Linked DNA regions of Homo sapiens. The protein of the gene in region 1 purifies or fractionates together with the protein of each later gene. This does not show direct contact. Each region holds a gene or a part of one and is shown in the gene's direction. Other genes may lie near its edges. The genes, in order: PLEKHM3, KIAA1549, XPO4, ATAD3C, MGAT5B and KIF1A.

Region 1 (3,500 bases):
AGCCACAAGGAACTAGATTCTGTCAACAATCCCAATAAGCTTATAACTGGATTCTTTACCTGAGTTTCTATTAATAGATAAGAGCCCAGCCTGGCCACCACCTTGGTTTCAGCCTTGTGTGAGAGACTCTGAGCAGAAAACCCAGCCAAGCCCATCCAGTCTTCTGACCTTCAGAACTGTGAGAAAATGAATAGGTGTTGTTTTAAGCTACTTAAGTTTGTAGAAATTTGTTATGCAACCATAGAAAACTAATACAGAAAGAAAAATTGAAACAATAGCAAAGTATCATTTTTTCCAAATCTCAAATTAACATAAATTTTCAAAAATCCTCCTCAACAGTTAGTGTGCAGTGCAGCAGACACTTGCAAATGCTAGGAGGGATGCACACTTGCTGTAACCTTTCCGAACAGCTCATTGGTGAATGTATGAAAAGCCTCAATGATGCTCCTACCTTTTGACCCAGTTAATTCCACTTCTAGGGTCCATCCAAAGGAATTTATCAGAAATATTTTAAAAGTTAATGTTCAAAGATGCTCAATATAACTTTATTTAGGAAAAAACATATGTAATAACCTAAATGCCCCAAAATGGGAACAAATTATGGTGTCATCAATAGATACAGTGTTATATAGACACTAAAAAGGATTTTTTAATGAAGAAGTTTAGCAGTGTGGAAAGGTGTTACCAATGATTGCTAGGTGGGGAAAAATGCGTATCTATAGTAAGCTCTGAACTATGTTTAAAAAAACAAAATCTACATAAGGGCTGAAAGGGCCACAACGGGGCAGTGCTTTTTTCCAGTGGAGGGTGAATAGGCATTGTTTATTTTGCCTTTTATTCTCTTTCGTATTTTCAAAATGACAAGCAATGAACATGTAGTACTTATTTATAATCACAAAAGTCAATAAACATTATTTTAAAAGCTGTTAAGTCTCTACATTGTGGGGAATACAATGACTATAAAACATTGTACAGTCAAATACTGGAGATAATAAAATCCATAAATAATGTAATTATGTGGCAGAAAGTGATTTTTTAAAGAAAACAAGATATAGAAAACAAATTATAATTGAAAAGATTGAAAATAAAGTTGGAAACTTATTTCTCAGTAGGGTAATAAGTGAAAGCTTCATGGTAGAAGGATCGCTGAATGTCATATAGAAGTAATAGAAAAAGGAGGCACATGGCTGAATGTTCATTAAAAGTATTTGTTTTCTCATAGATTGATGGATTTAGGTTTTGGGCTATGGACCCAGGTTAATTATACTAGTGGAAAACAACTGTGAAGAATATGTAACCATTTACAGAAAAAAATGGTGCCTGATTAGGAAAACCAAGCTGGTTCTAGCCCAGTAACATCTTCATTAAAAAACATCCAAGGCTGATATTTACTGAATATTTATGAGATACTTGACATACTCTATTACAGTTTAATCTTGTATATAGCCTTTGCTTAAGACTTGAAGTCATTCATTTACATATTTAAAAAGTAGGCAGATAGACAGGTGCTAATTTAATTACTAGTTTCAAAAGGCCTGACTTTAATGGGAACTTGGAGAAGGTTAGACTGGGCAGTTTTTTTAGGATTCTTTATCTCTAGTCAGTTTCCAGCAGCATCAAGCTACTGCTGCTGTTACTTTTATTTTCCCATTGTCACCCTATCCTATTTCACCTCACCCTCTCCTCCAACACCCCTAGAAAAGTACAGAGAGTGTCTGTGGCCCCATTGGTTGCTGGCCAAAGGCTGATTTGCTTCAGCAAATGTTAACCCCTTAAAATAAAAAGTCTGGAGGGATATCTAGCAAGGAGTTTTTTTTTCTTCTTGCGTTCTCCTTTCAGAGTACATTTGGCATTTGGTTCATAAGGAACTGAACTACATCCTAGCTTGGAGTTTCTGATGCAAGCCAATTAATTCAGAGAACTCAGTGCTGAGTGAGAGCGTGATAAAAATGACCACCAGCAATAAATTCCATGCATTATGTTTGCTCTGTTTCATTGGCTACTGTGGGATCATACCAGACATTGAAAAACATGCATAATTTGCCTTCCTGCTGACAAGGTAAAAGTTTTATTTGTTCCATAAGTAATTAATCTTGATGACAGTATGAGTTATGAGCAAAAACCAAAGTCAAAATATGGAGGCAATTGCATTAAGATGTCAGGCATGCTGTTTTCATTAACATTTTGTTTGTTTTCGTACACTCATTAATTGTTAATCTGAGTTATGTGGTTCAAATAGAATCCTTCAATTATATGCCACATTTATGACCATGGTAGAGATTTACTTATCCAGTTCTCCTGACTAGTGTAACCAGTTTATAATTCAGTACAAACTAAAGCTCTTCTGTCTCGCATTAGCCAGTTTACCTGTGAATACTTACGTAACTGGGAAATTGTTAAATATCCACTTCACCTTGTGTTCTGTAGGTGTGATTATATAAATGTTGATTTTTCAGTCACAGAACAAAAAACATGTGTTGCAGGTTAGAAACATCAGAAATATAACTAGCAGATTTTTTGCTCCAGGAAATTAGCTGAATGATCTCCTCCTACATGCTCTTGATCCACTTTTACCTGCACTATAACATTTCCAGAACAACTTCTCTTCCACGTTCAGGGATTCATTAATTTGTTAATTCAGCAAGTAAGGATTGAGCACTTGTTTTGTGCCATGGCACAGTACTTGGAGCTAGGAATGAACAAGACAGGCACAGTCCATGCCTTCATGAAGCTTACAGTCTAGTGAGGGAGACAGACAGTAAACAGGCCATTTGAAAATAACTTGCGTGCTCACTTTGGCAGCACATACATTAAAACTGGAACAACACAGAGATTAGCATGGCTTCTGTGCAGGGATGACATGCAAATTTGTGAAGAGCTCTTTCAGATAATGTTAAGATGTATATGGTTTATACAAATGGTAAAAAATTATAAAGTTAAAAAAATAGCTTGAGATGCATAATAATGGAGGAAATCTGGGTGCTATGGGAGCATATAAGAGGCCATTCAAAATGGACCTGGAGGTCAAGAGAGATGTGATTCCTCGTCAAGGACTGGACAGCTGAATTAGACTTAGCCAGGTTGTGTGTGTGGGTGGGAGGTAAGGAGGGGACAGTGTTGATAAAGAAGATGAGGGTGATGGTGGTGGAAAACAGTGTTCCAGGCAGAGGAAACAGGATAGGTGAGAAAGCAAGTGGAAAATTCCAGGTTTGGTTTTGTTTTCAGACAGGGTCTTGTTCTGTTGCCCAGGCTGGAGTGCAGTGGTGTGATCATAGCTCACTGCAGCCTCAAACTCCTGAGCCCAAGCGATCCTCCTACCTCAGCCTACTGCATAGCTAGGACTATAGGTTCACGCCCCCATGCCTGGTTAACTTTAAATTTTTTTTTTTTGTAGAGATGGGGGTCTCACTATGTTGCTCAGGATGGTCTTGAACCCCTAGCCTCCAGCAGTCCTCCCATCTTGACCTCCCAAAGTGCTGGGATTACAGGTGTGAGCCACC
Region 2 (3,500 bases), on another chromosome or scaffold:
AATCTCCAGAGACCTTGAGAGACACCTGCTTTTGGGACTGAGTCTGTGTAAATAGTGTGCAAGAACCATATTTTATTTGACCAGGCAACTAGATTAGAATTGTCCCCTAGACCTGCTGTTTTCATTCATTGCGAGCATTTGACTGGTTGTAAAAACACTGAGATACAGTCTGGATGTGGTGGCTCACGCTTATAATCCCAGCACTTTGGGAGGCTGAGGCAGGTGGGTCACCTGAGGCCAGGAGTTCGAGACCAGCCTGGCCAACATAGTGAAACCTCGTCTCTACTAAAAACACAAAAAAATAGCCAGGCATGGTAGTGGGTGCCTGTAATCCCAGCTACTCAGGAGGCTGAGGCTTGAACCCGGGAGGCAAAGGTTGCGGTGAGCTGAGATCGCGCCACTGCACTGCAGTCTGGGCAACAAAATGAGACTCTGTCTCAAAAAACAAAACCAAACCACTGAGATACTACCATAGCAGTTGGTAAATAGCTGCTGTACTGAATATTCCTTGCTCCCCACCCCCAAGTACCCTGAGCCTCCCTGCCCTCTTTCAGGACTCTTCTCCCAAGGACCACCGCCACCCTCCACCTCACCGAGATCCAGTGACTGAAGGGTTAATGCTCAGCACAGCAGGTGCCTCAAGGACTCTGCTTTAGTTTTTTGGCTGAAGACCATTCTGGCAGGTTTGAGGTGCTATCTCATTGTGGTTTTAATTTGCATTTCCCTAATGATTAGGGATGCTGAGCAATTTTTCTTTACCTGTTGACCATTTGTGTGTCTCTTTTGAGAAATGTCTGTTCAGATCCTTTACCTGTAAAATTAGAATAGCTCCCTTTCCGACTGTCAGTGCTCGTGCTCCACTGCTGTTAACTGTGTTGACTATCACCTGTACATTCATTCATTGATTTTTAATCTATCCCAGATCCAGTACTTAGAAAAAAAGTTAGGCTGGGTGCGGTGGCTCACGCCTGTGTTCCTAGCACTTTGGAAGCCCAAGGCGGGAGGATTGCTTGAGCTCAGGAGTTTAAGACCAGCCTGGGTAACATAGTGAGACCTTGTTTCTACAAAAGTACAAAAATTAGTTGGGCATGGTGGCATGCACCTGTAGTCTCAGCTATTCGGGAGGCTGAGGCAGGAGGATTGCTTGAGCCCAGCAGGTTGAGGCTGCAGTGGGCTGGGATTGTGCCACTGCACTCCAGCCTGGGTGATAGAGCAAGAACTTAAAACAAAAAAAAAGCTTGTTAAATGTTGTACTTGATGGTAGTTGAAGTCATAGATATGGAAGACACTAGTGAGGGGGGAGCATGGAGAGTTAGTAGACAAGGCAGCTGAGGACAGAAACCCTGAAACTAGCGTGAAGGAGAGGGGAAGACAAAGAGGAGCATACAGAGGAACTGACCATCATGACAAAATAGTGATATGAGAGCCAGGAGAGGAGGAGAGAGTTTTCCTCTAGGTGAGTGATCCATCATGTCAAATGCTACTGTACCAAACTGTTTCTTGAAGGATGGGATGAGGGCCAACTGATCAGAATCACCTGTTAAAAACCCAACTCATGGTCAAGCCAGCTCTACTGAAACAGGTGATGCCTGAGGATTTGTATTTTTGAAATGTTCCACAAGCTCTTTATGTTATTCTTAGGCCTGGTGAGGTTTGAGTTATTCCCTATAACTTAATGGTGGCAGGAGGGTTGGTGGAAGTTTTAAAAACATGTTTTAGACTTGATTGTGTTTGTAGGCTTCAAGAGTCAGTAAAAATACAGTGACTGGGCTGGGCGCGGTGGCTCATGCCTGTAATCCCAGCACTTTGGGAGGCCCAGGCAGGCAGTTCACTTGAGGTTAGGAGTTTGAGACCAGCCTGGCCAACATGGTGAAAACCCGCCATTACTAAAAATACAAAAATTAGCCAGGTGTGGTGGCGGGTGCCTGCAATCCTAGCTATTCGGGGGGCTGAGGCATGAGAATCACTTGAATCTGGGAGGCGGATGTTACAGTGAGCTGAGATTGTGCCACTTTACTCCAGCCTGGGTGACAGAGCGACACTCTATCTCAAAAACAAAACAAAACAAAACAAAAGCAGTGGTTGACAATTTAAGGAAGTAGAAGGAAGGACCTCATGGCTAATTTACCAAAAGTGAGGAGGTTCACCTGGGCAGGCAGGACCACCCTAAGAAGAGTTAGGAAGAAGTAATGTTGGGAGAAGGAATCGGAGGGACTGGTGGAAGGTTGGGAGTGAAGTCCAAGGTAATGGGGGTATCTGTGGTGATGTTAGGGAACCCACCGTGTGATTTTTGTCCTCTAGCACTTGACGTTCCAGTGTGTCTGGGAAAGGTGAGCCATTGGCCCGAGTCAGGGATGGGGAATCACAGGGCAGGTGTGAAGAGCCAAAGGGGATTGAAGGAGCTGGCAAGAGGTGGTCTGGATGAGGTAGGAGGTGAACCGTGGCTGGAGCAGTGGGAAAGGGACTGGGAGGAGGGGGTGCAGCTGAGATCCCAGGGCAGGTGTTGAGAGAGAGGTGGGGGAGGGCGGGAGGGATTGGGGTGTCATTGTGCCGAGTTTCAGAAGTGGGTCATCTCTAGTTTTGGTCTTGGGTAATGAACAGGGTAGGGTGTAGTGGTGGGAATGAGTTGTTGAAGTGGAACATGGAGGAAGGCTTTGGGGTGAATAACTTCTGTGGATGTTGAACTTGCCTGGAGAGAGGAAGAAAGGACTGTGAGCCAGGCACCAGCCCCTCAGTGAGTGAAAGAAAGTTCCCAGAGGACTGTGAATGGGAGGGGAGGAAGTCCGTCTTGAATGTTTCTGCTGTACCATCGCTGCCACCACTGCCCTCATTCAAGCTCCCATCCTCTTTTCTCCAGGTGACTGTCACGACCTCTACTTCTCCTCTCACTTCCTCCAGTTCATCCTCCACCTTCAGCAGGAAGGGCCTGCTAGGAACAGGTCACGTCCCTTCCTCCTTGCTTGACTGTCTGCAGTGGCCCCCATGGTTTTCATTACGCTCCACGTCTGAGTCAAAGCCTGTGTGCTCAGATAGCAGGTGTACAGGGCAGGAGTTGGGTGTCTAGGATGTGGGAAAATGGGCATGGAAGGTGCAGAATATTCCACATATTGGTACTGAAAGGGACCGAGAAGATCTTTCCAGCAAGAGAAGGGAAGTGATGTGATTTGGAGGCTGAGTTTTGCCCTCTCGAGGTTGAGGTCCAGCTGTAAGACGGTTTCTCAACCCTAGGGGGTGGGTTTTGTTGTGACAGCCGCTGACTGGGTAGGACCCAGCCCCTCAGAGGGCCAGCTTCTGCGGCATGAAGGGTGCTGTGTGTGTGCAAGGAGTGAAATAACGTAGGAAGAGGGAGTGGTAAGGTGGAGGCCATCTGTGCAGGTGAGGGCTAGGAAGAAGCCAGTCTGGGGTGGGGTTGGAAAGGGAGGCAGAGAGGGCAGGAGTGAAAGCTCCTGGGGGCTTGGAAGGGATGGGATCTAGGGCAAGAGTGGAGGCATTCATTTGAG
Region 3 (3,500 bases), on another chromosome or scaffold:
AGTTGATTATCACATGGGTCTTGGGGCTAGATTGGTGGACTCTTGCTTGATCTGGGCCATATCACTTCACCTCACTGAGTGTCGAAACCTTCACCTCTGGAATGGGAATAGAAACAGTACCTGTCTCGAAGCATTGTTGTAAATGATAGATGAATTAATCCATGTAAAAGGTTTTCAAACAGTAGTACTTAAATGCTGAATTATTCTAAATGTTAACTCTTAAAAATGTGTCCCTGCCTTTTAGAACCCCACAGTCCAGTAACTGATAAGATCTACTTGTATGATATTCTAAGGAGGATACTTGTGTATACTTTATCTCTTCAATAGGCTGAATATTCTGAACTGGTCGAAACATTACTATCAAGTCAGCAAGACCCAGTTATTTACCAGAGATTAGCAGATGCCTTCAACAAGCTCACTGCAAGCAGCACTCCTCCTACGCTGGATCGGAAGCAGAAGATGGCCTTCTTAAAGAGTTTAGAAGAATTTATGGCAAATGTTGGTGGTCTCCTTTGTGTAAAATAAACAACAGAACTTTATGCTTAATTTAGATCCTTTCTGCAAAGTGCACTGAATTGCTGAAAGTTGACTTGAGTCTTGTCCTATTCCTCAGTTCATTTGGCCATTTTGGATTTTGGAGAGCCTGAAACTTTGATATGTATGTAATACAGTGAAACAGGAGAGGTCAACTTGGCATCAGCTTCTGCTGTTAAGTGTTAGCCACAATCTGTCATATATATGTCTTTTAGATTCTGAATGGTGATTTAAAATTTTCAAAATGAAATTCCATATATGTGCAAACAGATATGGGCACCACGAAATACATATGCAGTGCCTTTTTTCCTTTTAACATAGGTGGCTAGCCAAAGTTTAGAATTTTTGTCATTAAATATGAAATGGATATATGCTAGGCAGTGTTTCTCAAAATCTCCATAGATCGCCTGCATCACTTGAGGAGCTGGTGAAAAGGCAGATTCTTAGGCCCAACTGTAGACCTTCAGAGTCAGAATGTCTGGTTGTTGGGCCCAGGAGTCTTCATGTTAATAAGCTTCTCCCTTTCGTCACCCCAAAAGTTTTGAATCAATGAAAGAGACATTGAAAACTCTTAAGAGGTTTTGTGCTTTCTAGCTTTTCCTCCCTTTGATGATTGGGTTTTATAATTCAGCAGGAAGGGGAAACATCACCAGGGGTTTGTTGGCTTTTTCTTAGCTTGCTTTCTTGCTTGCTTGCTTTCTTGCTTTTCTTGCTTTCTGTCTCTCTCTTTCTTTTCTCTCTCTCTCTCACATCAACCCAGTGCTGCAGGTTTTGTGTAATACAAGTCACTAATCATACTCTGATGCCTGAACTTGAGGAGGAAAATACATGTATATTTTTGTTCCGTAAAAATAACCTTAGGAACTGTAGCCATTTCATTGCCTTAATTTTAAGAGGAAAATACAAAAACAGCTGATTTGTTTTAGTAAGAAACCACGTCTTGATGCTTCAGAGTTGGTTTAGGGTGTTAGCTGCTATGAACCTGTTGCCCCTTTCGATCGTGTATTTATGTAGGTTTATCAGTGAAATGAAAGGCTTGTTTCCGTCTAGTCTAACTTTTTGAGTGTGTTTCTATCCAGCCACATAGCCCATATCTACTCTAAATGGCTTGCTTAAGCAATAATTATTTTAAAGGATGTGAATCACTGATTCACACAGACTATTGCACGTTGGGGCATTAGGGGCAATAATTCTTATCCAGACATGGGAGCCAGTGAATTTAATTTCAGAGATTAAAAATTCACTTTAGATCCTCTAGTTTGATCTCTTAATCAGGATTTTTATACAGCTGCCAGGCTCCCCTAATTCAGTGTGCCAGCTTACAATGTGGAAATGAAAGCTAATTTATACACAGCAGGCATATGAAACTCCACTCATTGCAGTACTTTCACAGCACAGTGACAGGTAGAGGACTCTGGCACAGGTGCACTCATGAAACTCTGCTTCCACCATGTTCCTGACACCTATCTATTAAACCATTCTGCAAATACGGTTTTTCTACCTGATTGCATATAGCATATGTGTCATTACATGTGATGCTGTGCAAAACTTTGTATAATTCTGTGTTATTAACAGTTAACAAAACTGGAGCATCTGAATTACATCCAACCTGTGCATGTGATGTTAGGTAGATGTGAATGCAGGGCCTTGGGCCATAACTTACATTTCTCTCAATTTGATTAGCTTTGAGTCACAATTAAGGGGAAGCAAAAACATCTTGAAAAGACTGCTAGGAAGGAAATTAATATCAGTCATCCAGAAGTACACGTTTCTGTATTTTAAAAAATACTTTGATGCATTTATTTTTAGGTGTTTTTTTTTTCCCCTTAAAAAACTTGAAGTGATATGCAGCAGTAATCTATTTGTTTTGCATTGTTCTTGGTGTTTTGTGTTTCCCAGATCCCTCAAGCTTTCTCAGCTGTTGTGAATTATGTGTATCTGTGTGTGTGCTAAGTACAGTCTCTTTACCAAAGGGCACTGAAACACACAATTGACTGGACAGGTCCACGCGCCATGACAAAACTATAATCAAGTTATTAAAACTAAAGAGGAGTGGGAAAGGAATGCCTTGGTAAGTAAAAAGGCATCTATATTTAATAACTTTTATCCAGATGGCAACATATTTGCAAAATTTGCCCAGATCCTATTACAATACTAAAAATAGAAAATTTCACCTCCATATTCCTGAGGTGTAATTTCATTAGACTAGTTTTAGTTTAAAAAGACCTTCTTCAGATTGGACCAAATAATACTTATAAGATCAGCAGAATGTTGAATATTAGCTCACTGGGGTGGGGAGAAGCCACTACCATTTTTTAGGTGATGGGGATGCCACTGAGTTGCAACGGCTAGACCTTTTCAGGGTGGTTGTGTCCATGTTTGCCTGATTGGATGCTTATTCACTTTGTGTTTTCTTTTGTTTTATTTTGTCCAATTTTGTCTTTAGCTGTGTTTATTAACTTCTCCGGTCTTGTTTTGTTTTAATGCTCTTGGCCCAGTGGGTGTCAAGAACACTGGCTTAATTCAAGTCAGTTGATTTTTTTTCTATTAAAACTGTTGTTAAAATATTTTTTAAAACAAAAACATTATTTGTGCCCTCTTTTATATATGTCAAAGGGACACTGTCAAGTATTTCATTTTTAGATTTTTGTTTTATAAAATTTCTGTTGTTCATATAGTATCCTTTAACCTCTAGTTTTCCATACATCCTTTGTTTGTTTCTCATTTTATTTTCCTTGACCCATTTATTTCCCAAGGCACAATCACTAAAGACTTTGTACTTTCACAGTCTGTTAATGTGGTAGCACCTGTAACTGTGTTCTTGTTCTGTTAAAAGGATTGATTTGCTTTTATAGTCCTTGTGCTGGATGAGTGGCTGCCTCAGTAGCAAAACTACCTGACAGTATTTGACAGTGTCCTTTCCAGCACCATTATTTGGGTCTTTCAGGGTGGCCATCTCTGTTAGA
Region 4 (3,975 bases), on another chromosome or scaffold:
GTTGAACTGTCCTTGCATTCCAGGAATAAATCCTGCTTGGTCAGGGTGTGGAATCCTTTTATTATACTCCTGAATTCGTTTTGCTGGCATTTTCTTGACGACTTTTCCAACGATGCTCATCAGGGATATTGGCATGTCATTTTTCTTGTGGTGTCTTTGGCTTTGATATGAGGGTAATGCTGGCCTCTTAGGATGAGTGAGGAAATGTTCTTCAATTTGTCCAAGAGTTTGAGGAGTGGTACTGATTCTTCTTAATGTTTTGTGAATTCACATGTGAAGACATCAGGTCCAGGTCTTGTCTTTCAACTTTTATAGTTTGAAGATTTTAGGTTCCCAGAAAAGTTGCAAGAGTAGCACAGAGACTTCCTGGGCCTGGGACCTTGCCACGTGGTGAACATCATGTGTCACTGTTGGACCCACCCGCGACCAGGTTTTGCCCCAGAATCCCACCCAGGAGGCCACGTGACATTTAGCTGTCACTTCTGGTGGGCTCCTGCCAGGTCCCGTGCTTCCTGGAGGGGTGGCTCCGTGAGCATCTGCTCACCCCCTTTCCTCTGCTGGGCCCTGGGTGAGGTGCAGCCACTCGGGTGGACCCTGAGGGTCCCTGCACCTGTTTGCCCTCTCTTGGGTGGGCTCAAGACCAAAAATGATGTTGAGCAGTCCTGGGCCCCTGAGCCACAGTGGCGGTCCGGCTCCGGTCAGTGTCTCCTGCGCTCCCGGGCCCCCGACCCACAGTGGTGGTCCGGCTCCGGTCAGTGTCTCCCCACACAGTGGCTCTTGGTGAGGGATGGGCGCTGGCAGAGGGGACGGGCACCACGTGGTCATCCCCATGGCAGGTTCTATCGTGGTGACGGTGTTGTGGGAGGATGGTGTGCTGCTGCCCCTGCACCCCGTGAGATGAATCCTGCCTCTGGGAGGCATAGCTGGGATGGGGCTAGGGACCCGCTCAGCTGTCCGGGAAGGGTCCCCTGCCCTGTGCTTCCTCCAGGCGTCCTGGTGCGCTCTTGAGCATGGCGCCCAGTGGGGGTCCCCACACCCTCACCCTGACCCATGGGTGCCTCCCCTTGGGGACTCCATGCCCTTTGCTGGCATTGGGATGGAGAGTGACCTGTCCATGGCAGAAGGGCTGGACCTGAGGCTGCCTGAAGCCACACCAAGGGCCACAGCCCCAGCAGCTCCAGCCTTCACATGCTAGATGCCAAGCCCTGTGCCCAGGAGGACAGGGAGGTGGGGGCAGAGGTGGCCTTGGTGCCACCAGCCACGTGCCTCAAGGTGGGCAGTGGCTGCCTCTGCCCTGGAGGCCTGTGAGGGTCAGGGTCTGAGGGTCTGAGGTGCACTATGACCCGGGGGCACTGCCTGACCACGGCTGAGACACGCAGAGGGTCTGCAGTTCCCACCTGCCTCTGGGAAGCTGCCCTGGGTCGGCCGTCAGTGAGGCTCCGCCTTGGGCTTTCTATTAGAAAGTCATTGAGCAACATTGGTGCTGAGGACGCAGGCAGGGCTGTGGGCACTGCAGGGGCTGCCCCCGGTGTCCACACACGTGCTGGGCTCTGCCGAGGTGCGGGTAGCCTGTGTTTCACGCTCAGGCCATCCTGGAGCCCCTGGTTTGGTCCCTCCCCACCTCAGGGCCCTGGCGTGCATTTGGGGTGGGGGGTTCCCATGGCGGCCTCCCTCAGCTCCCTCTCTCCCCACTAGGCCACGGCGTATGCCTCCAAGGACGGGGTCCTGACCGAGGCCATGATGGACGCCTGCGTGCAAGACTTTGTCCAGCAGCACCAGCAGATGATGCGCTGGCTGAAGGGGGAGAGGCCTGGGCCCGAGGACGAGCAACCCTCATCCTGAGTCCATGGGGAGACCACACCTCACGGAGCCTGGCCGCGGACCCCTCCCACCCCTGCCTTTGCGGCCCCGCACATTTAGGAAATACTCCCCGTAATAAAGTCCCACGGGGGCCGCACCGCTGTGTCTATTGGCTGACACGGGGCGGGGTTTGGGGCCCCCTAACGTCCCCCTGGGGTCAAAGGTGACAGAAAAGGCAGAAGCTGGGGCTTTCTGGAGGATTTAACCACAGAGGGGTGGGCTTCACAGGAGGTGGCTGCCACGGCGGGGCCGGGTGCCCGTGCCCCATCCTGAGGCCGTGCATACGCGGGTGCCCCTTCGCCTCCCTCCCCTCCGCCAGAGCTGCCTGTGGCCAGACACACGGTGGAGGGAAGTGCACGCGAAACAGACACAGCGGCTTCAAATAGATGCCGCCCCTGCCCGCGCTTTGCAGCTAGTCCCTGCAAACCTTGATGATGGGGCTGGGCGCGGTGGCTCACGCCTGGAATCTCAGCGAGGCCAAGGAGAGTGGATCACCTGAGGTCGGGAGTTCCAGACCAGCCTGGCCAACATGGTGAAACTCCATCTCTCCTAAAAAAAAAAAAAAAAAAAAAAAAAAAAAAAAAAAAATTAGCCGGCCGTGGTGGCAAGTGCCTGAAATCCCAGGTACTCAGGAGGCTGAGGCAGGAGAATCACTTGAGCCCGGGAAGTGGAGGTTGCACTGAGCTGAGACCATGGAATTGCACTGCAGCATGGGCAACAAGAGTCAAACTCCCTCTAAAAAAAAAAAAAAAAAAAGGGCCAGGTGGCACATGCCGGTGGTCCCAGCTTCTTGGCTTGGAGGCTGAGGTAGGAGGATCGCCTGAGCATGGGAGGCAGAGGTTGCAGTGAGCCAAGATCGCACCATTGCACTCCAGCCTGGATGATAGAGTGAGACTGTACCTCTAAATAACCAAAACCTTGATTACAGCCATGGGGTGGGGGTGGGGGTCAGGGGCGTCTGACTATGGCTGGGGAACTCATTTGGTTTTTCTCCTCTCTTATTTTTTTGGGTAGAGACAGGGTCCCTTTGTTGCCCAGGCTGGTCTCCAACTCCTGGGCTCAAGCAATCCTCCTGCCTCGGCTTCCTAAAGTGTTGGGATTACAGGCTTGAGCCACCGTGCCTGGTCTGTTTTTTTTTTTTTTTTGGCAATAGAGTCTTGCTCGCCCAGGGTGGAGTGCAGTGGTGTGATCTCGGCTCACTGCAACCTCCACCTTCAGGGTGTCAGGCCTCTGGGCCCAAGCTAAGCCATCATATCTCCTGTGACCTGCACTTATACATCCAGATGGCCTGAAGCAACTGAAGATCCACAAAATAAGTGAAAAGAGCCTTAACTGATGACATTCCACCATTGTGATTTGTTTCTGCCCCACCCTAGCTGATCAATGTACTTTGCAATCTCCCCCACCCTTAAGAAGGTTCTTTGTCATTCTCCCCACCCTTGAGAATGTACTTTGTGAGATCCATCCCCTGCCCGCAAAACATTGTCCCTAACTCCACCGCCTATCCCAAAACCTGTAAGAACTAGTGATAATCCCACCACCCTTTGCTGACTCTCTTTTTGAACTCAGCCCGCCTGCACCCAGGTGAAATAAACAGCCTTGTTGCTCACACAAAGCCTGTTTGGTTGTCTCTTCACACAGATGCACATGACACAGGGTTCAAGCAATTTTCATGCCTAAACGTCTGGAGTAGCTGGGATTACAGGCGCATGCCACCATGCCCAGGTTAATTTTTGTATTTTTGGCAGAGACGGGGGTTTCACCATGTTGGCCAGGCTGGTCTCAAACTCCTGTTTTCAGGTGATCTGCCCACCTCGGCCTCCCAAAGTGCTGGGATTATGGGTGTGAGCCATTGTGCCTGGCTGGCATTTTCTGGCTTTTTTTTTTTTTTTTTTTTTTGAGACAGAGTCTCACTGTCGCCCAGACTGGAGTGCAGTGATGAGATCTCTGCAGCTGTGTTATATGTAAATTTTCTGTGCCACCAAAGAAGTAGAACTCGAATATAAAGTTTTCTCAGCTAGATAATTTACTTCTATAGAAGGGGGGGTCTCATAGATGGAGCAATGGCAAGCGCTTGGACAAGGGAGGGGAAGGGGTTCTTATTCCTGACGCGGG
Region 5 (3,500 bases), on another chromosome or scaffold:
CAGCCTGTTCAGCATTATGAAGCCTTGGAGAATGGCAGAGAGAAGGCTTGAAAGCAGGAATCAAGGTCCAAGACCTCTGCTGAGATGTCAGAGGTCACTGTGGGGTGTGGAGCGGGGAGCTGGGAGATGAGGCTCCCCATGCCGATTGCCACAGCTGCAGGGAAGCCCGGGAAGCTGTGGGCACTGGGTGCTGGAGAAGAGGGCAGAGTCGGAGGGTCGTGGAACACACAGGGTCTACTTTTATCAGAAAATGCTGTTAAGAAACTGGCCCAAGAGAATGAGAGGTTATGAAGTCTGGAAAGAGAAACGTTTTATCTCTAGCGCTGGAACTTCTGTGATAGCCCGAGGCAATCCTGTTCAGCTAGAGACCTCAAAGAAACTGCTTCCAAAAAAAGACATCTTTGCCCTGGTGTTTGTAACCAAAGGAAGTCAGAGGTGGCTGGATGGAGAGAAAAATGAAAGCAGCATCTTGGGAGAGATGCCTTCCAGAGTACAGGGGATCAGGTGGCCGAGAAGCAGAGGAGGAAGGAGGGGAGATGGAAGGTCAGGTCATTTATCATCCTTCCAGGGAGCAGGAGCTGGGGACCCAGGGCAAGGCGTTGGGTGAACTTTGTGCTAAGCGGGTCTGTCTTATTCTGCATTCCCCAGAAAGTGGAGCCTGAGGCTAAGGCTTAGGTGCTATTTTAGTAGAGTGTAGTCCCAGGAAGCGAGGGGTGAAGGATCAAGGGAATGAAGCAGGAAGGAGGCAAAGGCAGCTGGTTCAGGCCCGGGGCAAACCCACCCTCATCCCTGGAGGAAACATTCCAGGCCCTCAGACAGTCATCTGGGTGAGCTTGGGTGGAACTTTTCAATCCGTAGGTGGCAACCCATGGATAAATTGTGAAGCCAACTCAGGGAGTCTTGACTAGCCTTTTTGGTTCGTGTACAATTTTTTGTAGAAACATATGCTTTCATTTCTCCTGGGTAAATGCCCAAGAATATAATGGCTGGTTAATACTGTAGAAGTGTGTTTAACTTTTTTTAAAAGTTATTACGAGGCTTTCAATTCTTGAACAAATTCATCAATGCTTGGGATGGTCAGTCTTGTAAATTTCAGCCGTTCTAACAGGCATGGAATGGTGTCTTCTTGTGGTTTAAACTAGCATTTTCCTAATGACTAATGATGAAGATATTTTTGTGTGTTTATTTGTCTTCCATATATCTTTTTTTTTTTTTTTTTGGTGATGTGTCTTTTTAAAAACTTTTGCCCATTGAAAATATTAGGTTGTTTATTTTCTTACTATGGAGTTGTTAGAGTTCTTTATATATCCTGGATCCAAGTCTCGTATCAAATATATGCTTTATAAATATTTTCTTCTAGTCTGTGGCTTGTCTCTCTCTTTTTAAACATATATATATTATATATATTATATAATTATATATACTATATATTATATACATTATATATACTATATATATTATATACATTATATATATTATATATTATATAATTATATATACATTATATATATTATATATTATATAATTATATATACTATATATTATATACATTATATATATATATATGTAGATAGAGACAGAGAGACGGGGTCTCATTATGTTGCCCATTCGGGTCGCAAACTCCTGGGCTCAAGCGATCCTCCCGCCTCAGCCTCTCAAAGTGCTGGGTTACAGGCATGAGCCACTGCGCCTGGCCTTGTCTTTCTCTTAACAGTGTCTTTCAGCCGGGAACGGTGGCTCACGCCTGTAATCTCAGAACTTTGGGAGGCCATGGCGGGGTGGATCCCGAGGTCAGGAGATTGAGATCAGCTTGACTAACAAGGTGAAATCCCATCTCTACTAAAAATACAAAAGATTAGCCACGTGTGGTGGCGTGCGCCCGTAGTCCCAGCTACTCAGGAGGCTGAGGCAGGAGAATTGTTTGAACCTGGGAGGCGGAGGTTGCAGTGAGTCGAGATCGCACCACTGCACTCCAGCCTGGGCGACAGAGGGAGACTCTGTCCCAAAAACAAACAAACAAAACAATGTCTTTCAAAGAGAAAAGTTCTTAATTTTAATGAAGTCCAGTGTTTTCTTTTAGGGATTGTGCTTTTGGTGTTGTATTTAAGAAATCTTTGTCTAACCCAAGGTTACAAAGATTTCTTTCCTGTTTTTTTGTATAAGTTTTATAGTTTTAGGTTTTGCATTTAAGTCTGTGATCCATTTTGCATGAACTTTTACATATAATAAGTAAAAAGTTCTTTTACGTTTTTGCGTGTAGATATCATGTTTCATGACCATTTACTGATGAAACCATCCTTCCTCCACTGAAATGTTTTGCACCTTTGTCGAAAATCAGTTGACCACACTGTGTGTGGGTCTATTTCTGGAGTCTGTATTCTGTTCCATTGATCTGTTTGTCTATCTTGATGCCAATACCACACTATCTGGATTACTGTAGCTTTATAAGAAGTCTTGACATCGGTAATATAAGCCTGCTAACTGTGTTCTTTTTCAAAGTTGTTTTGTCTATTCTAGGTTCTTTGCATTTCCAAATGAGTTTTAGAATCAGCTTATCAATTTCTACAAAAAAGTACTGGGAGTTTGATTGGGATTTCAATGTTTTTTTTTTTTTTTGAGTTCTGGAAAATGAATATGAAAAATTGTAGAGATAATTTAAGATCAAGGATGACTCTATTTTACTCCAGAGAGAATTTACTTTTACTCTTGGCTTATAGCTGGGGGCCCTAGCAATCTCGGATCACCTTGATCAATATGGTGATTAAGACAAAATGGATTCAGCCCCTGCAAGGACTGGTCTAGCTCTGTTTCATCCTTTTCTCTAGGGTGGAATTCCTCTGAGTTCTAATTCCAAATATGGAGCTTCCATCAGAGGTCCCCCTCCTTCAGTGAAAGAAGGGATGGGCAGATAAGATGGATGAATGAGAGGATGGATGGATAGATGGATGAGTCGATGGGTGGATGGGTGAGTGGAGGGATGTGTGAGAGGGATGGATGGATGAATGGGTGGGTGGATGAGTGGATGGGTGGATGTTTGAGAGGGATGGATGGGTGAATGGATGGATGGGTGGGTGGACGCATAGAGTTATGGGCAGGTGGACAAATGGATGGATGGATGGATGCATGGATGGTGGGTGCATGGATGGATGGTGGGTGCATGGATGGATGGTGGGTAGATGGATGGATAGGATGGATGGGATGGGTGAGAGAGAGAGATGGATGAATGGACTACAGAGAGCTCCACAGCTCCTCAGAGGAGCTTAGAGGTCATTAGGGGTTCAGCAGATGCCAAGTGGCACCACGTGAATCCATTTAAATGTTGGTCCCCATAGGGTTCCTTTGGAAAGAAAACAGTTTCATGGCTAAAAGTAATCCTGAAGCCTCTGCTCTAGTCCAATCTCTGCCATTCATAGGTTTTCAGGGCCAGAGAGGGGCGGGGCCTTTCCCAGTGTCCCACAGCCAGTTAATGGCCAACCTGAGACTGGGTCCACATCTTCTGA
Region 6 (3,500 bases), about 33 Mb from region 1:
GAGGGATAGGGTGGAACTCCAGGGGTGCAGCTTTATTGGTTGCCCTGGGTCTGGGCACTGCCCAGAAGTGGGACCACTGGGGACCCCCTTCTTGAGAAGTTCAGTGTTCTTGGGAATCACGAGACGTGCACAGGCCAGTGGGGTCCCAAGGCTGTAGCCCCTACTCAGCCCCAAAGCTGTGGGCACAGCCCCTCCTGGCTGGACATCTTCCCCACTCAGGGGGCAGGGACAGCTGGGGATGGTCTGTCCCCTTCGTCCAGTGACGAGGTCTCCACCTCTCTGCATGGGGGTGCCTCAGGTGGCTCATCAAGGATCCCTTCACAACTGCTTCACTCCCCAGACTCCAGGGCTGAGCCCTCCATGGTCAGTGTCCTGATCCTTCTTGGCTCTTGGCTCCCACTGGTGAACCCATGGTTTCTGGGCTGTCTGAGCTGGAATGGGGTCCTAGAACCCCATTTTACAGTCCAAAGCTGGGAACCCAGGACCCCATGGGACAAAGCCTGTGGTCTGCACATCTGGGGGCTCACCCCAGCCTCAGAGGGCCCCAGGGCCCCCACATGCTGAGAGCTGGGGCTGTCTGCCCTTCTGGAAGCTCAGCTTCTGCTGCAGTGCTGGGGCTGCTGTGCCAGGCTTGGGTGTATGCGGGTGGTCGGGTCCCACCGGCCTGCTGCTGTTGGTGGGCTGGGCCTTCGGCTTGAGCTTTCTGTGTTCCTCATTTTCCTGGCTTGGAGTGACCAGCCTGGTGGCACCAGCCAAGTGCGGGGGCAGGGACCCTGGTGGTAGTCTGGTGCCTGGAGAGAGGTTGGAGGGGGGTGTGGCCAGCATCAGGCTCCTGCCCCTCTGCAAGAGAGATGATCCTCCTGTCTCCCTGCAGACACCACACCTCGTCAACCTGAACGAGGACCCGCTGATGTCTGAGTGCCTGCTCTACTACATCAAGGATGGGATCACCAGGTGAGAGGGGACCTGGCAGCCACTCCAGCCTGGCCAGGCCCTGGGATCTGGCAGGGGAAGGCTGGACTCCCCATTCCTGCTTCTGCAGAGGGGCCACTGAGTTTGGACTTCCCCAGCGACCCCACTGATGTCTGCGCTGGGTGTTTCCCAAACAATCCTGGTTGGGCGTCCCTGGAGGCCAGTGGGTGGCGTCCTGGGTGTATTGGGTCCCAGCTGCCGTGCTGATGGTGCCCCCACCCCGCAGAGTGGGCAGGGAGGATGGCGAGAGGCGGCAGGACATTGTTCTGAGTGGGCACTTCATCAAGGAGGAGCACTGCGTCTTCCGGAGCGACTCCAGGGGAGGCAGCGAAGGTATCACCACCCTACCGTCCCTACCCGCACCCATGCCCCTGTGCCGTGATGATCAGGCCTGAATGAGGTCACCCTCTCCCAGCTTACCCAGCACTAAGTGGGTCGCGAGTCATACTTCTAGGCAGGACGTGTGTGTGTGTGTGTGTGTGTGTGTGTGTGTGTGTGAGAGAGAGAGAGAGAGAGAGAGAGAGATTTGGAGAGAGAGAGAGATATTTGGGGCCAGCCTTAAAAACAACTTCCATTAGGTTGGTGCTTGGGAAAATGCCTGGTACTTTCTGTGGCCAGGGGTAGCTGCTGCCTTAGGGAGCTGAGCCTCCTTGAGGGCTGGAGGTGGGGGCACAGGTGGGCTGCTGGCCGGGAAGCGTGTTGGGGCCCAGGGTGGAGGATGTTCATGGCGGGAGGACAGTGAGCCATGAGGATTGAGCCCAGATCTAGGGTGGAAAACTATTTCCAGACCTTGGTTTCCTGTTGGCTGTGGGCGGCCATCTGTCCGTTTCCCCTGCCTGCCCAGTGGTCTCCCTCCTGGAGATGACGTGGGGCTGTCCCCATTGCCTGGTGCTGCCCAACTTGGGGATGGGCCTGTGGTGTCAGTGTGCCGTCACATGGCCCACAGCCCAGGCTAAGGGCATCTCCCGGCAGCATCCAGCCAGCCTCTGGCCTGCAGACCTGTGACTGACACCCACTGTCCAACTTGGCCACCTCAGGGTGATGGCCCTAAGTGGTGTTGGGACGATTGGCTCTCCTGGAATTCTCTGACTGCAAAGCCCTGCCTACCCTCTCCTGTGGGACGGCCCAGGCCCCATTAGCTGGTGTTTTTATCCTTGTCCACCTGGGGAGCTGGACAGGGCCCTGGGTGATTAGGCCCAGCACAGCCTCTTGGCTTCAACGTGGGCACATGCATCCTCCTTCTGGGGGTCACTTTCTTCCTCTGTTAAGTGGGGTGAGACCCCTAAGCTCCTCTGAGGCCCAAATGAGTGTTGCCAATGGTCACGGCCTGTGTAGCAGGGAAAAGAGAGGCGAGAGGCTTGGAAGAGGCCATGCCCGGGGGCCAGGTAAGCCGAGCTGCTGTAGGTGACAGCCCCTCATAGTCCTCCTCTCTGCCCCTCCCACCTTTCCTGTAGCTGTGGTGACCTTGGAGCCCTGTGAGGGGGCAGACACCTACGTCAATGGCAAGAAAGTCACAGAGCCCAGCATCCTGCGTTCAGGTATGGCTGGGGACTCCGGGGGCCAGTCAGGTAGGCAGAGGCATGAGGCGAGGCCTCTGTTCCCATGTCCAAGCCACCGCCTCCTGTGCACTGTGCGGGATGGCAGCTCTTAAGGGCCGCTGGGCAGGTAGGGGAGGGGGCTGCGGGTATCCAAGCAGCTCATGTGCCTCCCCAGTCCCCCAACTCCAGGAACACAGCACTACAGGCCCCATTCACACAACACAGGGGCCCCGAGACACTGAGTCCGTGCTGTGGGCTGAGTGAGGAGCCAGGGTGTGCCTGCCTAGGAAGAAGCTCCTGCCTCCTGGCCCAGGACTCTGCCCTGTCGGGCTGGTCTGGGGGATACAGGGCAGTGGACAAGGGCTTCCCAGAGCTGAGGTGTTGTGGAGCTCAGTGGGGTGGGCTGCTCCAGTCTCTGAATGCAGCACCCCGGGTGGGGTTGGGCTCTGTTCCCAGACACTGCAGTGTCTGTGATGTTCAAACACGTGCAGGCACACGTGGCATAAAGTCCCTTCTTTAGAGAAGTCAGACAGTCAGACAGGGGGCCCTCTTGAGTGGTGTGTGACTATTGCCCACGCAGTTAGGGTTCTGCCAGAGAAACAGCAGCAGCCTGATGCACAGACATGGCTGTAGACATGTACCGAGATGTAGTGAGATAACGTACAACCATGTCTAGGTATAAAGAGATTTATTTCAAGGAATTGGCTTATCAGATGGTGGGGCTGGTCAGCGAAGTTTGAAATCCATGGGCAGGTGGCAGTCTGGGAACTCAGGGCAGGCTGGGAACTCGGGGCAGGCTGGGAACTCGGGGCAGGGTGGGAACTTGGCAGGAGTGGACTCCATCCGCTGGGTTTCTTCTTCCTCAGAGGAAGCCCCAGTTTGCTCTTAGGTCTTCACCTGCTTGGATGAGGCCCACCCCACCGTTGGGGGCCTCCTTGATTTCCATCAGCTGATTGCAGGTGTGGAGCACATGTGCAGAAACCTCCACAC

Evidence for each region.
Region 2: the proteins of PLEKHM3 (region 1) and KIAA1549 purify together in Homo sapiens (affinity purification with mass spectrometry; one large-scale study listed by BioGRID and IntAct). This does not show direct contact.
Region 3: the proteins of PLEKHM3 (region 1) and XPO4 purify together in Homo sapiens (affinity purification with mass spectrometry; one large-scale study listed by BioGRID and IntAct). This does not show direct contact.
Region 4: the proteins of PLEKHM3 (region 1) and ATAD3C purify together in Homo sapiens (affinity purification with mass spectrometry; one large-scale study listed by BioGRID and IntAct). This does not show direct contact.
Region 5: the proteins of PLEKHM3 (region 1) and MGAT5B purify together in Homo sapiens (affinity purification with mass spectrometry; one large-scale study listed by BioGRID and IntAct). This does not show direct contact.
Region 6: the proteins of PLEKHM3 (region 1) and KIF1A purify together in Homo sapiens (affinity purification with mass spectrometry; one large-scale study listed by BioGRID and IntAct). This does not show direct contact.

The regions. Positions count from the first base shown.
Region 1 is NC_000002.12:208,019,028-208,022,527, reverse strand, and holds part of PLEKHM3 (pleckstrin homology domain-containing family M member 3), read left to right. Parts: intron 1-1,839; exon of another isoform or gene 1,840-2,059; intron 2,060-3,500. UniProt on the Homo sapiens protein: Involved in skeletal muscle differentiation. May act as a scaffold protein for AKT1 during muscle differentiation.
Region 2 is NC_000007.14:138,971,390-138,974,889, reverse strand, and holds part of KIAA1549 (UPF0606 protein KIAA1549), read left to right. Parts: intron 1-3,500. UniProt on the Homo sapiens protein: May play a role in photoreceptor function.
Region 3 is NC_000013.11:20,780,747-20,784,246, reverse strand, and holds part of XPO4 (exportin-4), read left to right. Parts: intron 1-327; coding exon 328-525; 3' UTR 526-3,500. UniProt on the Homo sapiens protein: Mediates the nuclear export of proteins (cargos), such as EIF5A, SMAD3 and isoform M2 of PKM (PKM2). In the nucleus binds cooperatively to its cargo and to the GTPase Ran in its active GTP-bound form.
Region 4 is NC_000001.11:1,466,689-1,470,663, forward strand, and holds the end of ATAD3C (ATPase family AAA domain-containing protein 3C), read left to right. Parts: intron 1-1,695; coding exon 1,696-1,842; 3' UTR 1,843-3,475; downstream 3,476-3,975.
Region 5 is NC_000017.11:76,934,404-76,937,903, forward strand, and holds part of MGAT5B (alpha-1,6-mannosylglycoprotein 6-beta-N-acetylglucosaminyltransferase B), read left to right. Parts: intron 1-3,500. UniProt on the Homo sapiens protein: Glycosyltransferase that acts on alpha-linked mannose of N-glycans and O-mannosyl glycans.
Region 6 is NC_000002.12:240,764,720-240,768,219, reverse strand, and holds part of KIF1A (kinesin-like protein KIF1A), read left to right. Parts: intron 1-874; coding exon 875-954; intron 955-1,198; coding exon 1,199-1,305; intron 1,306-2,426; coding exon 2,427-2,510; intron 2,511-3,500.